Regions from separate parts of the Homo sapiens genome. Here region 2 is linked to region 1. The links come from fine-mapping of genetic effects on gene expression. Tissue or cell type: whole blood. Region 1 holds a variant in brackets; the other region holds the start of a gene. All regions are shown on one strand. Distances are between the middles of the regions.

Evidence for each region. PIP is the estimated chance that this variant, and not a neighbour inherited with it, causes the effect.
Region 2: it holds the start of USP48, and the variant in region 1 is fine-mapped to the expression of USP48 in whole blood (INTERVAL, PIP 0.98).

What each region holds. Positions count from the first base shown.
Region 1 is chr1:21,688,084-21,696,345 of GRCh38, reverse strand. USP48 (ubiquitin specific peptidase 48) reads left to right here. Exons shown (of 27, transcript NM_032236.8): 23 at 1,125-1,280; 24 at 6,247-6,372. Among named protein-coding and RNA genes, the nearest start is that of RAP1GAP, 23 kb to the right of the region's middle. The variant TG/G (reference allele first, on the strand shown) is at 5,029.
Region 2 is chr1:21,779,611-21,787,610 of GRCh38, reverse strand. It overlaps USP48 (ubiquitin specific peptidase 48), which reads left to right and starts at 4,462. Exons shown (of 27, transcript NM_032236.8): 1 at 4,462-4,787. The coding sequence starts at 4,654. RefSeq lists silencers at 1,777-1,951, 4,339-4,698 and enhancers at 4,079-4,128, 3,874-4,644, 5,069-5,168, 4,645-5,416, 5,729-5,778.

The sequences.
Region 1 (8,262 bases):
CTGCCTTGGCCCCCTAGTAGCTGGGATTACAGGCATGAGCCACCATGCCCGGCTAATTTTGCATTTTTAGTAGAGAGGGGGGTTTCTCCATTTTAGTCAGGCTGGTCTCGAACTCCTGACCTCAGGTGATCTGCCCACTTCGGCCTCCCAGAGTGTTGGGATTACAGGCGTGAGCCACCATGCCAGGCTCTTTGCCTTCTTGACATTGAACTTGGACCAGTTTGATTTCTTTTAGATTGTTCCATGTTCTGTATTTGGCTGATTGCTTCTTTATGTTACTTATTTTAATTTATTTATATATCCCCTATATTCCAATTTCTGTAAATTGAAAGGTGGGCGTAAATGTTTGATTACATTCCAGTATAACATTTTTGCAAGAATATTTTATGAGTGAGTCTGTATATTTTGCCATTAGGACAAGTGGTAAAGTCTTGTTTTTAGTCAAACTAAGTTTGATTTTTTTTTATTAATGTTCCATATTTTATTTTTAAATTCACAACAGTTTATACTTAGTTTCCATGTCATTCTCAAGAAGAGAAGAAAATGTTTAAAATTCAGGTTGTTCATGAACTAAGTTTTGTAATCCTCAAGATTTTCAGTTTATTATGTTTTTCTGATGTAAGGTCTTTTTTATAAAAGAGACAGAGTCTCACTCTGTCAGCAGACTGGAGTCCAGTGGTGCGATTGTAGCTCACTGCAGCCTGGAACCACTGGGCTCAAATGATCCTCCTGCCTCAGCCTCCAAGTAGCTGGGACTACAGGCTCATGCCACCACGCCTGGCTAATTTTTGGTTGAGATGGGTCTTAATATGTTGCCTAGGCTGGTCTTGAACTCCTGGGATTATAGGTGGGAGCCTCCTCACCAAACCTTAAATGTCTCTTGTAACAAACATTTAAACTGCTTACATGCACTTAGAGGTGTGTATTACTCATTATTTTCTTTTATCAATTTTATGTGAGCCTGCTAAGAAAGTCTCGTTAGTTTCTACTCATTGTTTACATTGAATTTCAAATAGTTAAGGGACCAATAAGGAAACAGCTTTTGTTTACCTGAAAAACTTCATGAGCAAGGGTCACATTGTGGTTAATTTCAGTGCTTTCTTCATTTCCAATCTTCATTATAGAGCAATGGTGGAACAAAGCGGCAAAAGATATCCCATCAAAATTATATAGCCTATCAAAAGCAAGTTATTCGCCGAAGTATGCGACATAGAAAAGTTCGTGGTGAGAAAGCACTTCTCGTTTCTGCTAATCAGACGTTAAAAGAATTGAAAATTCAGGTGAGGGAAACATTTGTTCAAGTTTGCTCTGGACTTAAAAGGGCCTTTATGAATTCCTGCTTTCCACCTGTATTTACATATATGTATGTATCTGTGTTTTTTTCCAGAAGACTTAAAGTTTTCAAAATAGCCAAAAATCTTTTTGTGAAGATGAAAGTGAATTTTGGGTTCTGGAAACTTGGGCTGGTTCTGCAATAGCTTTCCAATAATGAGAAACGCTGGGAACCACTTAATTTGTCACATGTTGAGGTTGTGCCAGGATAACTGTTCTCTCACTTTATTGTGCTGTATGCTTTTCTTTGACCACTTAATAGGTATTGGAGGCTGTTACCAGGAACTGCTGTGAAATTTAATGGGAGATAAAAGGCAGCTTATTATTAGCGATTAGTGATTGCTTATTCACTAGGCTGTCACAGTATTTTTGGTGGCAGATAAATCTATTTGATAGATAGAGGGGGTTTTTTTTTTTTTTTTTTTTTTTTTTTTTTTTTTTGGTGAGACAGAGCCTCACTCTGTCACCCAGGCTGGAGTGCAGTGGTGCCATCTTGGCTCACTGCAACCTCCGCCTACCGGGTTCAAGCAGTTCTCTGCCTCAGCCTCCTGAGTAGCTGGGATTACAGGTGCGTGCCACCACACCCAGCTAATTTTTGTATTTTTAGTAGAGACAGGGTTTCACCATCTTGGCCAGGCTGGTCTTGAACTCCTTACCTCGTTTTCCACCCGCCTCAGCCTCCCAAAGTGCTGAGATTACAGGCGTGAGCCACCGCGCCCGGCCTTGATAGAGTTTTAAAATTATCTTTACCTTGATGTTTTCCAAATTGTTATATAGATTTATTTTAGATATGTCCTCTCCATCCCCCTCAAAGCATGCATTGCTTTACAAATCAGTTCCACGGCTGTAGTGCAGGCATTATGAAATGGTTTCATGATACTGTTATTTCTTGGTATCAATACTGAAGTACTATAAATAAGCATTCCAGTGGTAAATCTCAAACCCTAGGCAGAAGGAACTGATAAATTCAAGATGTCCATAAAAAATTCTGGCCCCTAATCTGTTTCAGTCACTGATAGATATCCAAAAAGTTGACCAAATTTCCTCCTTTGCTACTTTTATGTGGCATAGTTTACTGGTTACACATTTTTCTTGTTGCTGATATTTATCATTGTAATTGAGGCAAAAGTACAGGCCTTCCTTTGAGGGTGTTATGTATTCCAGATTGTCCTGACAACAGTATTTCCCTTGGTTGAACCCATGGCTCTGAAAATAAGTGTGTTGGCATAATATCTTTACTCTGTTATTGTACCTTTTACATCTAAGAAACCTTGTTTCTATCACTGGCTTTCTGCCTGTCATTGGGAAACCTCGAACATTCAAAACCTTTAAATTACAGAAAGAGCCCCTGTGCCTAAAGACATTTTTAAAAGCCTGTGCTGCTTTTATTATGGACTACAATTTTTGAAGAATAAACCAGAAGTCAGCAGAAATAACCCTTCCATCTGAGAGCATGTACCTGCCCGAATGAGCTGCTAGAAGATGGCAGCTGTTCACACAGCCCCCAGAGGTGCTCTTCCTGAATGTCTGTCTCATCTCCCACTCTTGCTTCAGGGACCACTGCGGGCCAAACAGAGTCAAAGAAAAGGCAGTAGAAGGTCTTTCCCCTCACTACATAGTGGTGGGAGCTTGTGAAGCTTCAACTAGATGTGAGCCTATTTGCCTGGCAGTGTGGATAGCATCAGAGTTTGTAAGGTTTGCTTGAAACATTACAAAGCTTGCTGTGTCTAATCAGTAATTCATCCACCTTTGATCCCATGAGGTTAATGAAGTACAATTTGTTCATTTCCTTTCTCAAAAGATGTGCAGTGTTTAGTTGTATTATTTCATTTTCCCAAAGATAGATCTTTAGTGGGTGGGTGGTATTGCCTGCCTGAGAAAGTAGAATATTTTGGCACAGAAGTGAAATGGCTGGCAGCTGAGGCGATCGCTTCTATATTTTCTTTTTTCAGCCCCACACAGCATCGCAAGCAGAGGAGAGCCACTCCCTGATAGCAACAGGGTTTTCATGGTTCCTGTTAAGTTCCATAGACCAGGAATGCCACATCTACTTGTTAAGCAGACCTCTATCGTGTTCTTTATACTGAAGCATTCTCCTAGCACTTAGAGTTTAAGGATTATTTTACCGTAGGCCTCCCTGCCTTGGTTGGCCTGTTCCATCTTCTCTCTAGAAGCGTGTGTTCATCTTTCATATTGACCCTTCTGTGAAACCTGTCTTGGCCCCTTTCATGGAACTGACTGTCCCCCTGTGCTCGCTAGATCCTGCACATACCTTCTGCTACCATCCTCACAACTTTGTTTTGACCTCACTCCTGGAAACCCCTCTAGGGCGGGATTATTCACTTTTATATTATCAACACCTAAAACAGTACTTGACACACGGTAGCTTCTTATTAAATGCTTCATTAGTTGTTGACAGCATCTCAGTGCCCTTGTCCGTTCTCAGAATATAATGTGTGAACGTCAGCCCCTTAGTTGTGGCACTTGTGTCTAGAGGTATTTGCTGTTTGTCCAGTTTCATAGGGTAGTACAAAAACACTTAGCATTTAGGGGCATGAACAAGCATTTTTACAGTCCAGCAGCTGTGACATTATCCATGTTAAGTTAGCATCACACACATCCACCGTAGCTCTGCTCAATCTTCATGGTTCCGGAACATTTGCTGGTGTAGGGCTGGATATGCCTCTGCTTGATGTTTGCATGCTGAGCTGGCTTGGATAGAACTGTCCTGTCAGTACTCCTGCTTATTGCTTCATGAAGACCATTGATGATGCCAGTGCACTTTTCATTGCTAGCCACAGATCTCTGGCTAGTCCATCCCTGCCTGCTTTTCAGGCGCTGATGTTCTTTTGAAAAATCCAGGTAAGATTCTGTCCCAGCAGTTAGGGAGGAGGCCAGTGCTGTTATCCTTGTTCTTATTTGTCTTTGGTGCGATTATTAAAATCACTTTTCTGGTCCCCATCACACTGGCCTGTCAAGCTCTTGGGCCCTGTTACACACACAGTTCAAGGTTGATTTGTGAGGCTCGTTTTGTCTTTCCACATCCAAAGAATAGAGTGCAGGAAAGGGCAGAATGGTTTTCCCATGACATCATGGGTGTTGGTGTAATATAAGATACATGTAATAGCATGCATTTTATGGGTAAGTTAAAAAGCATACTAATATGAATATTCTTGAACTTGTCTACCGAGTTAAGAATTAAAACAGTGTCATTGAAGGTTACCTGTGTTTGCCTGTCTGAGCCCAACTTCTTCTTGCCCTCCAGAGGTAAACATGACCCAGAAATGATAAAATTTAAAAAACAAACCTTTCTGAATTTGTAAAAACATTTAAATATTATGTATACCAGTATTTTGGAATGTATGTATGATTTATTTTTGAGATAGTGTCTTGCTCTTTCGCCCAGACTGGAGTGCAGTGGCGCAATCTCGGCTTACTGCAACTTCTGCTTCCTGGGTTCAAGTGATTCTCCTCCCTCAGCCTCCCAAGTAGCTAAGATCACAGGTGCATGGCACTATTCCCAGCTAAATTTTTGTATTTTTAGTAGAGATAGGGTTTTGCCATGATGGCCAGGCTGGTCTTGAACTCCTGACCTCAGGTGATCCACCTGCCTCAGCCTCTCAAAGTGCTGGTATTACAAGCATGAGCCACCACACTCATCTGGAAAGTATTTAATTTTTTTTTTTTTTTTTTTTT[TG/G]GAGATGGGAGTTTCGCTCTTGTTGTATAGGCTGGAGTGCAATGGCGTGGTCTCAGCTCACCACAACCTCCATCTCCTGGGTTCAAGCAATTCTCTGGCCTCAGCCTCCCGAGTAGCTGAGATTACAGGCATGTGCCACCATACTCAGCTAATTTTGTATTTTTAGTGGAGACAGGGTTTCACCATGTTGGTCAGGCTGGTCTCGAACTCCTGACGTGAGGTGATCCGTCCACCTCGGCCTCCCAAAGTGTTGGGATTACAGGCGAGAGCCACTGCACCCGGCTGTATTTAATTTTTAACACTTGGCCAGAACTGGGGTGGGGCATATGGTCCCTACCCTTCAGAAATTCATATTTTGCTTCCTAGAGACAAAACTCAGTCTAAGAATATGTGACAGTTCCAAAGGCTGAATTACATACCCCAGGCCATTTGCTAAAGGAATAAGAACAAAAGAGAGAATTTAAAGATGGTTTTAAGAAAGAATTTTGGGCCAGATGCAGTGGCTCATGCCTGTAATCTCTGCACTTCGGGAGGCTAAGCTGGGAGGATTGCTTGAGTCTAAGAATTCGAGACCAGCCTGGGCAACATAGCAAGACCTCATGTCTACAAAAATAAAAAATAAAAAATCCGCCAGACATGGTAGCACACATCTGTAGTCTCAGCCACTCAGAAGCCTTAGGTGGGAGGATCCCTTGAGCCTGGGAGTTCAAGGCTGCAATGAGCCATGATCGCGCCACTGCACTCCAGCCTGGGTGACAGAGTGAGACCCTGTCTCAACAACAACAAAAAAAAAAGAAAAAGAAAAAAGAAAGAATTTGGACTTGACTTGTTGATGAAAGGATATGGGGCCTGGGAAAGATGAGGTGACAGTGATGACCTTGCCCAAGCCTCAGAATAGCCATCAGCCCAGCCCCACTTTTTATTCATTTTATTTCCCCACACCTCCATCCTTGGGAAGCTGGTAAGGTAAGGAACAAACGCATCTATATGTGTAATTGTTTCCTAATACTCTACCAGACCTCTTAAGGATGTTCCCGGATATATAGGGACGATAGCCTCAGTAGGAGTATAACAAGTAGGCTGACTGTAAACAATAGTGGTTTTGTACTCTGAAGCCTTTTTTTTTTTTTTAAGAATCCATGCATAATTTATTTAAATAGGGTATAAGTCTTAGTATTTTGCATTATACGGACTTTCTCTCTTTTATATTGGCACAGATCATGCATGCATTTTCAGTTGCTCCTTTTGACCAGAATTTGTCAATTGATGGAAAGATTTTAAGTGATGACTGTGCCACCCTAGGCACCCTTGGCGTCATTCCTGAATCTGTCATTTTATTGAAGGTAAGTAAACAGCTCCTTAGCTGAAGAACTCAAGGTTTTACATGTTACATAACTATGTGTAAACTGTGTGAAATGGTGGTTAAAGGATGCCTTGGGTCTTTAGCAGAGGGTAGTGATAAATGACTGCTGTGGGTTTTTGCAGCTCAGCCCAACTCTGGCTGAGCCCCAGGAGACTTAGAGGAGGTCAGGACATCATCTATCTTGTTCTTGTGTGTTATAGTAGGTGATGTTACGCCACAGCATCAGCAACTGCTGGTACCCTGAGAAGGTGAAAGTGAAGGCTTTCCTTGGCCTTTCCTGGATCACCTAGATCAGTTTCTATGCCTTTGTGGGATCAGGGTACATCATTACTTTCCTGTTCCCTGGTAGGGCAGGGCAGTGGTATAAATCCCACTCACCCAACTGCTAAGCTCCACGCCTGATTTTTCCCATTTGATTTTCTGTCACAAGGGCCCCCATTCTTCTCCAGATACAGATCTAGTTTTCATTCCCCTCAGACTGGGAGGAAGGGAGTGATATTGGGTTGTGGCCCTCTGAGCACTGAGGATTGACTGTCATTCCAAAGGGGCAAGCTGAGTGATCTGGTCTCAGGTCACAAAGTTTCTGTGGTGTCCCCTCCCCAATGCCCTCCAACCCCCCGCCCCCCGCTTTTTTTTTTTTCCTTTTTTTGGACTAGATGGATCTGTTCTTAAAACCACACTAATGATACTGATGTCTGCAACTTAATTTGAAATGCTGCCCCCACAAAAAAAAAAAGCAAAAAATGGGTAGAAGATAGACTTGTGACCAATGCAAATAGTAACTTATTTTATACTTTAAAATCTATCTCTGCTGAGATTTTCATAGTTTTTCTTAGTTAAAAGTAGATTCAGCCTCCTCTGTAACTTTTTCCCTAACTTCCGGTTCAGCAGAATTACTTAACCATACGTCATAGTATTAAAGTATCTCCTCTTTTCCTTTTGGTTCAAAAGGACTAGCCAGCCAAGCTAGGAAACAAGGGTAAAACACAAGGTTCTGTCACAACAGTCAAAATACACGACTTAATGGGATTCTGTCCAAGGCATGGAAATTGGTTTTGGATTTAGTAGATGTAGAAAGTAGGGGCTTCTTCTTTTTTTTTTTTTTTTTTTTGAGATGGAGTCTCGCTGTGTTGCCCAGGCTGGAGTGCAGTGGCACAATCTCGGCTCACTGCAACCTCCACCTCCCAGATTCAAGCAGTTCTCCTGCCGCGGCCTCCCGAGTATCTGGGATTACAGGCGTGTGCCACCACACCCGGCCAATTTTTTGTATTTTTAGTAGAGACAGGGTTTCACCGTGTTGGCCAAGCTGGTCTCAAACTCCTGACCTCAGGTGATCTGCCCGCCTCACCTCCCAAAGTGCTGGGATTACAGGTGTGAGCCACTGCGCCAGGCCTCAGTGACTTTTCTTTGACAGTGTCTTAGAAGCCCCTACTTTCACTGGGCGCAGTGGCTCACCCCTGTAATCCTAACACTTTGGGAGGTTGAGGTGGGTGGATCATGAGGTCAGGAGTTCAAGACCAGCGTGGCCAGCATGGTGAAACCCCATCTCTACTAAATATACAAGAAAATTGGCCAAGCGTGGTGGTGGGCACCTGTGATCCCAGCTACTCGGGAGGCTGAGACAGGAGAATGGCGTGAACTCGGGAGGTGGAAGTTGCAGTGAGCCGAGATTGCGCCACTGCACTCCAGCCTGGGCAACAGAGGGAGACTCCGTCTCAAAAAGAAAGAAAGAAAAGTCATTGAACCAGCCTCATTTGCCCAATTCTACCCTCCCTAAGGGCCTAACTTAGTCGCTTCCCATTGCCTCTTTTGTTTCTTCTTGGCCAAAAGAATCCCTACTGTGCCGAATACCACCACATCATGTGGTAGA
Region 2 (8,000 bases), 91 kb before region 1:
AAAGTAAAAATGGCCTTGCTGAGGATGTTAAATTTATGTTCAAGTGCTATTTGTTTTTTGTTGTTTTTTTTTTAGATGAAGTCTCGCTCTGTCGCCAGGCTGGAGTGCAGTGGCACAATCTTGGCTCCCTGCAACCGCTGCCTCCCAGGTTCAAGCGATTCTCCTGCCTCAGCCTCCTGAGTAGCTAGGACTACAGGCGTGTGCCACCATGCCCAGCTAATTTTTTGTATTTTTTGTAGAGACGGGGTTTCACCATGTTGGCCAGGATGGTCTTGATCTCTTGACCTCATGATCTGCCTGCCTCGGCCTCCCAAAGTGCTGGGATTACAGGTGTGAGCCACCGCGCCCGGCCGTAAGTGCTACTTCTTTACGGCACTGGGGAACAAGCATTTCTAACAAGATCCCCCAGGGAGTAAACAAAGTTAAAGGAGAGGTCCAAAGGACTGAACCCTAGGCCACTCAAGTTTCCAGGTTAGAGGAGAAAGAAGCTGCAAAGGACACCGGAAGGGATGGCCAGCAGTAAAGAGAAAACCAGGAGAGTGTGGCACCCTGTGATTTAAGAGAAGAAAGTGTTTCTAAGAGGAAAGAGTGAATAACTGGGTCAATTGCTGCTAACAGGTCTAGTAAAATAAATAGAGTATGAGTTTACCACTGCATTTAACAAGGTGAAGGCCATTGGCATTCTTCATACGAGCAGTTTTGGAGGTGATAGAGGCAAGAACCTGATTTGGGAGGTTTAAGGAGGAATAGGAGGAGAACTGGAGAAGAGTACAGAAAATGCTTTCCAGGAGTTTTGCTATAAAGGGAAAAAGAGAAATGGGACAGTAGCTGGAGGGGGATGTGGGAGTCAAGAGAGGGTTTGTTAAACTTCAGAGAAATTACAGCAAATTAGCACATTTGGGTTTTGTTTGTTTGTTTTTGAGACAGGGTCTCCCTCTGTCGCCCAGACTGGAGTGCAGTGGTGAGATCTCTGCTCACTGCAACCTCGACCTCCTGGGCTCAAGCAATCCCTCCACTTCAGCCTTCTGAGTAGCTGGGACTACAGGTGCCTACCACCACACCTGGCAAATTTTTGTATTTTTGTAGAGACAGGGTTTCACCATGTTGCCCAAGCTGGTCTCGAACTCCTGACCTCAGATGATCTGTCCACCTCGGCCTCCCAAAGTGCTGGATTACAGGCGTGAGCTACCGTGCCTGGCCGAAATCATCTTCTTTCTAAATCTGTTCCTTCTTCTGGTGTTGCTATCTCATTTGGTAGAAATTCTATTTAATTATCCAATTTAGAAAACTGCCATATAGTAGTGTCTTCATGGTGAATGATAGTCACAATTTCATCATGTGCTAAGTGAAGCAAGGGATGACACAGGGAGCTGTGGATACTGAGGAAAGGGGTGTGACCAGACTTGAAGGTCAAATATCAGAAAGGTGAAGATATACCGGTCAGGTCAACATCATCAAGCTGTAGCAAGTCCTCATTCTGTCCAAGGCGTTTGAACCAGAGTGACTCTATCTTGAATGGGGGCTGGGTAAAATAAGGCTGAGACCTACTGGGCTGCATTCCCAGGAGGTGAAGACATTTTTTTTGCCTGAGTTTCCCACCGTCGCCTGGGATGGAGTGCAATGCCACGATCTTGGCTCACTGTAACCTCCGCCTCCTGTTCAAGCAATTGTCCTGCCTCAGCCTCCTGAGTAGCTGGGATTACAGGTGCCCGCCACCATGCCTGGCTAATTTTTGTATTTTTAGTAGACCCAGGGTTTCACTATGTTGGCCAGGCTCATCTCGAACTCCTGACCTCGTGATCCGCCCACCTTGGCCTCCTAAAGTGCTGGGATTACAGGCATGAGCCACCATGCCTGGCCTAAGGCATTCTTAGACACAGGATGAGATAGGAGGTCTACACAAGATACAGGTCATAAAGACATTGCTGAGAAAACAGAATGCAGTAAAGAAGCTGGTTAAAACCCACCAAAACCAAGATGGCCATGAGACTGACCTCTGGTCGTCCTCACTGCTTATTATATGCTAATTATTATACGCTAATTATTATACATTAGCATGCTAAAAGACATGCCCACCAGTGCATGACAGGTTACAAATGCCATGGCAAAGTCAGGAAGTTACCCTATATGGTCTAAAAAGGGGAGGAGGCCAGGCGCGGTAGCTCACACCTGTAATCCCAGCACTTTGAGAGGCCGAGGTGGGCGGATCACCTGAAGTCCGGAGTTCGAGACCAGCCTGACCAACATAGTGAAACCCCGTCTCTACTAAAAAATACAAAAAAATTAGGCGGGCGTGGTGGCAAAAGCCTGTAATCCTAGCTACTTGGGAGGTTGAGGCAGGAGAATCGCTTGAACCCAGGAGGCGGAGGTTGCAGTGAGCCCAGACCACACCATTGCACTCCAGCCTGGGCAACAAGAGCAAAACTCCGTCTCAGGAAAAAAAAAAGTCTTCTCTGCCTCACTATACAAAATGCAAATCTCCATTATAGCACTCAACAGCTGTATATCTTCAGTGGGTACTTTGAATAAAGGTCTTCCTTTTTTTGTTTTTTTTTTTGTTGTTATTGTTGTTTTATTGTTGTTGTTATTGTTGTTTTGTTTTGTTTTTGTTTTTTTTTTGGAGACAGAGTCTCGCTCAGTCGCCCAGGCCGGAGGGCAGTGGCGCGATCTCCGCTCACTGTAAGCTCCGCCTCCTGGGTTCCCGCCCTTCTCCTGCCTCAGCCTCCAGAGTAGCTGGGACTACAGGCGCCCGCCACTACGCCCGGCTATTTTTTTTGTATTTTTAGTAGAGAGGGGGTTTCACCGTGTTAGCCAGGATGGTCTCGATCTCCTGATCTCGTGATCCGCCCGCCTTGGCCTCCCAAAGTGCTGGGATTACAGGCGTGAGCCACCGCGCCCGGCGGCAAGGTCTTCCTTTCAAGCCATAACTCTCACCTGTCCCTGTCTCAGAAATTGTGGCCCTCTCACGCCAAGCTTTTCTCTTCTGTGCCTTTGCTCCTTGTGGTTTCTTTTTTTCTGGAATGGTGTCTTTCTTCTATCCTGGATAAGTCCAACTCACCCGTTAAAAGCGGGCTTCGGAATTACTTCTGGGAAGCCTTTTCTCAAGTACCCCGAAGCCTCCCAAGACTGGGATGGGGATCTTTGTATTTCTACCGCTCACTCCCTAACCCACTTCCAAGGGCAGGGACCACATCTTACTTTCTTCTGCCTTCAGCGAATTTTTTTGTTTTTTTTGAGACGGAGTTTTACTCTTGTTGCCCAGGCTGGAGTGCAATGGCGTTATCTCGGCTAACCACAACCTCCGCCTCCCGGGTTCAAGCGATTCTCCTGCCTCTGCCTCCCGACTAGCTGGGATTACAGGCATGCGCGACCGCGCCTTGCTAATTTTGTATTTTTAGTAGAGACGGGGTTTCTCCATTTTGGTCAGGCTGGCCTCGAACTCCTGACCTCAGGTGATCCGCCCACCTCGGCCTCCCAAAGTGCTGGGATTGGATCCTTGAGCCACGGTGCTCGGCCCAGTGAATGTTTATCTAAAGAATTCAGCCTAAGGTTTTCCAGCAGGCAAGCAGCTGAGTCAGAAGTTAGCGCTTAGATTCTGGCAGAGCTCTAATTCAAATTCAAAATTCTTAAATATCCTCACTTTAGTAGAGTTCTTTACAGTTTGCAAAACAATTCTCATAAAGCTACTCTTTATGTCCTGGGGCAGGAGTCGCAGAAAGGAAATGTTTTAAACCAGGAGCTAGAGAGGAACTAGAAAATCCTGGCATAGAGGTAACAGTCTTGAGAAGGGAGCCAACAGCAAACATGACCTTGCGCACCAGAGAAACTCCACCCTGGCACCTCGGACCCCCGCCCGCACAGTCTGCGGCGCACTGAGCACTCCCACCTCGAAGACTACAAATCCCAGCATGCCTCACAGTCAGTGGCAGGACGCAGGGCATGCCGGGACACGTAGTCCCACCCTAGCACGGGAAAAGGCCGGAAGGTCCCATGACGTCAGGAGGGCTCGGGAAAGGGGTTCGGAACCGGTCTAGGCTCAAGTTAAATCTCCCTCTAAAGAGCCAACACTGGTTTCTTTGGCGACTCGGTTTCTACTCTAAACAGGTCCCGCTCCACAGTCTGGGCGGGCCTGTGTGTGCGTTGAGTAGCCTCTAGCGTGAAAACTTCATGGTTAAAAGGGAAGTACCGGAGGCAAGAAATAGCTTTCGAGGCACTGGTTTGTTAGAGTAGTGGTACGTAGTGCGCCGCCCTGAACGGGGGCTGAGACGCTGCTTTTCCAGAAGTGCCAGTGAGGACGTGGCAAGACCGCCTCGGACGTACGCTTCCTCTACCTCAGCCCGTCGGGTTAGGGGCGCGGGAGGCGCAGAGGCTGCTGGGAACGCGCATGCGCTCAGCGCGGCGGGGAGTCCACCTTTAACGTCCGCGGGCGCGGGGTGTGTCGGGTGTCGACGGCGGCGCTTTGCGGCCGGTCGTGCGGGTCGGGCGCGGGCGGGCGCGGCGGCAGTGGCGCGCACAGGTGATTGACTGGCCAGCTGCCTGAAGGAGCGCCAGGTCCTCCTTGCTGGCAGGTGGCGAAGCCCATTGGGGCGGCGGTGCAGACCGCGGCGGCGGCTGCGGCGGTCTGGCTCGGGAGGCGTTCCTGGGGCCAAGGCCATGGCCCCGCGGCTGCAGCTGGAGAAGGCGGCCTGGCGCTGGGCGGAGACGGTGCGGCCCGAGGAGGTGTCGCAGGAGCACATCGAGACCGCTTACCGCATCTGGCTGGAGCCCTGCATTCGCGGCGTGTGCAGGTGAGGCCCGCGCACCGCGCCTCGCGGGCTCCTCGCGCCGGACCTTGGAAAGCCCGGGCGGGGTAGGGGAAAGGAAGACGGCAGCCCTTTGCGTGCATTTGGGAGGCGCGGAGCCGAGCGAGGTGGAGTTTCCCCCTTTGCGCCGTCTGCGCGACCTGGGAAACGCAGGCTTCCCGGGCTGTGCGCGGAGGTGATGCTGGCCAAAGCACTTTAGGAAGGTTTGGGTTCCCATCCAGAAGATGGCGGTGGAGATGAAGGCAGGAGCTGAGAGCTTAGCAAGCGTTGATGGTTGGGGTATCTTGGCCACAGCACGGCTCTTTCGTTTGTAAAAAGGAACTTTTTGGAAGTGAGCTTCATCACAGTGTATCTTGTTGGTGTTGACACCGAAGGCCTGATCATCTTAGTATTATTTTTGTAGAGGGCAGCTTTAGAAAAAACTGTGGTCAGCCTACGTCATCGATACCCTGCACCCCCGTTGGCCTTCCCTCACTCGTTAATCTAGTATTTTTTTTAAGCCTTTCTTTGGTCGTTCTGGTTCGACACCAGTTTACCGAGTACCAAGTTTAAGCTGTGATAGTGCTGTCCTTCACGTCTGCGCCGCCCTTGAACTTTACCTTTCCTTAACCCCCTCATATAGATTGAATCCTTAGGCTTTGCTCCCGTTTATTCCCTTTTTTCCACCTTGTAACGCGGGAACTATAGTTTTTGTTTCAGAATGTTGTTGAAATTGACTTGGCCAAGCCGGGCATGCTCAGTAGCCGTCTTTCGGCAGGCATTTAGGAAATGCTTTCTGGAGTTTTTACATTCCGCTGGGGGATCCGGAAGGAATGGAAGTCATGGTCTCTGGCTTTGGAGCTTAAAGTCTAGTATGAGAAGTGAAATAAGTTAGGGAGTTTCTATAAAGCAAACGAATAAGTCCAAGCTCTGGGCGTCTGTCTCACAAGGAGGGTAAATCTGACTTTAACAGTAAGTTCTGGAATGTTTGAAGTCTGTGTATAATAGAAATAATCAAGCTTCAGTCAGTTTCTCAACGTAATTAGTTTCCAGACTAACCAAATAATGTAAACTACTAATAGTTCTGGTGGTTTTTGAGACAGGGTCTCACTCTGTCACACAGGCTGGAGTGCAGTGTCACGAGCTCGGCTCACTGCAACCTCCGTTTCCCAGGCTCAAGCGATCCTCCCACCTCGGCCTCCGGAGTAGCTGGGATTAGAGGCACGGGCCACCACGCCCGACTCAGTTTTGTATTTTTAGTGGAGACGGGTTTTCGCCATGTTGGCCAGGCTGGTCTCGAGCTCTGGGCTCAAGCGATCTGCCCACCTCTTCTGGGATTACAGGCGTGAGCCACCATGCTGGGCCAATTTCTGATATTTATTTATTTATTGAGACGGTGTTTCGCTCTTATTGCCCAGGCTAGAGTGCAATGGCGTGATCTCGGCTCACTGCAACCTCTGCCTCCTTGGTTCAAGCGATTCTCCTGCCTCAGCCTCCTGAATAGCTGGGATTACAGGCATGCACCATCATGCCCGGCTAATTTTTTTTTATTATTTTTATTTTTTGTATTTTTAGTAGAGACAGGGTTTCTCCATGTTGGTCAGGCTGGTCTCGAACTCCTGACCTCAGATAATTTGACCGCCTTGGCCTCCCAAAGTGCTGGCATTACAGGCGTGAGCCACCGCCCGCCAGGCCGATACTTTTTTTTTTTTCGAGACAGCGTCGTGAGACGCTGGATAAATTTAAAAAAATAAATTTTTAAAATAAAAATTTTAAAAGAAAAAAGAATAGGCCGGGTGCGGTGGCTCATGCCTGTAATCCCAGCACTTTGGGAGGCCGAGATGGGCGGATCACGAGGTCAGGAGTTCGAGACCAGCCTGGCCAGCATGGTGAAACCCCGTCTCTACTAAAAATACAAAAATTAGCCGGGGGTGGTGGCGGGCGCCTGTAATCCCAGCTACTGGGGTGGCTGAGGCAGGAGAACCCTGGAACCCGGGAGGTGGAGGTTGCGGTGAGCCGAGATCACGCCACTGCACTCCAGCTTGGGCAACAGGGCGAGACTCAGTCTCAAAAAAAAAAAAAAAAAAAAAATTATCTTATCTTGGCTCTGTATGCCCTGTATGTTCCGCCTCTAAATTTCCCTATTCTGGACATTTCATATAAATGGAATCCTAAAATACGTGGACTTTTGTGACTGATTTCCTTTACTTATGTATTTAAGGGTCATCCATGTTGTAGCATGTTTCAGCACTTCATTTCATTAAAAAAATACCTGGGAAATACATATGACAGTGTTTACCATTTTAAAGTGCACAATTCGGTGGGTTTCAGTACCTTTATAGTGTTGTACAACCATCACCACTGTCTGGTTCCAGAACTTTTCATTATCCTAAAAGGAAACTGAGCATCTGTTAGTCACTTCCCATTTTCCCCCCTCGCCCAGCCCCTGGCAACTGCTAATCTACTTTCTGTCTCTGGATTTCTCTATTAATATTTCATAGCAATGGAATTATACAGTACGTGGCCATTTGTGTCTGGTTTCACTTAACGTAATGTTTCCAAGGGTTATCCCTGCTGCGCATGTGTCACTACTTTATTCCTTACGGCTGAGTAGTATTCCATTTTATGGATAATACCACATTTTATATATCTATTCATCAGTTGAGGGACATTTTGATTATTTCCACCTTTTGCTTATTTTGAGTAGTACTTCTCTGAACATTTGCATACAAGTTTTGGTCTGAACATCTGATTTCAGTTCTTTACCTGGGAGTGGAATTACTGGGTCATACACAGTCAATTCTGTGTTTAACTTAACCGAACCGCGAAACTTCCACAGTGGTTGTACCGATTTACATTCCCACCAGTGATGTATGAGGGTTCAAATGCTTCATCATCCTCATAAACAGGTACTATTTTCTGTTTTTCTGGTTAGGCCCTCCTACTTGGGTGTGAAGTGATGCATCTTTGTAGTTTTGATTTGCATTTTCCTAGTGACTAATGAGTTCAGCGTCTTTTCATGTGCTCGTTGCCTCTTTTCCTTTTATTGATCAATAATATGCCATCATATCTCTGTATCTACCACATTTTTAATTTGCATTCATCTGCTGATAGACATTTGGGTCATTTCTACTTTTTGGCTATTATAATGTTGCTATGAACATTAGTGTAGTAGTTTTTGTGTGGGCATTTATTTTTATTTCTCTTGGTTATAGAGCA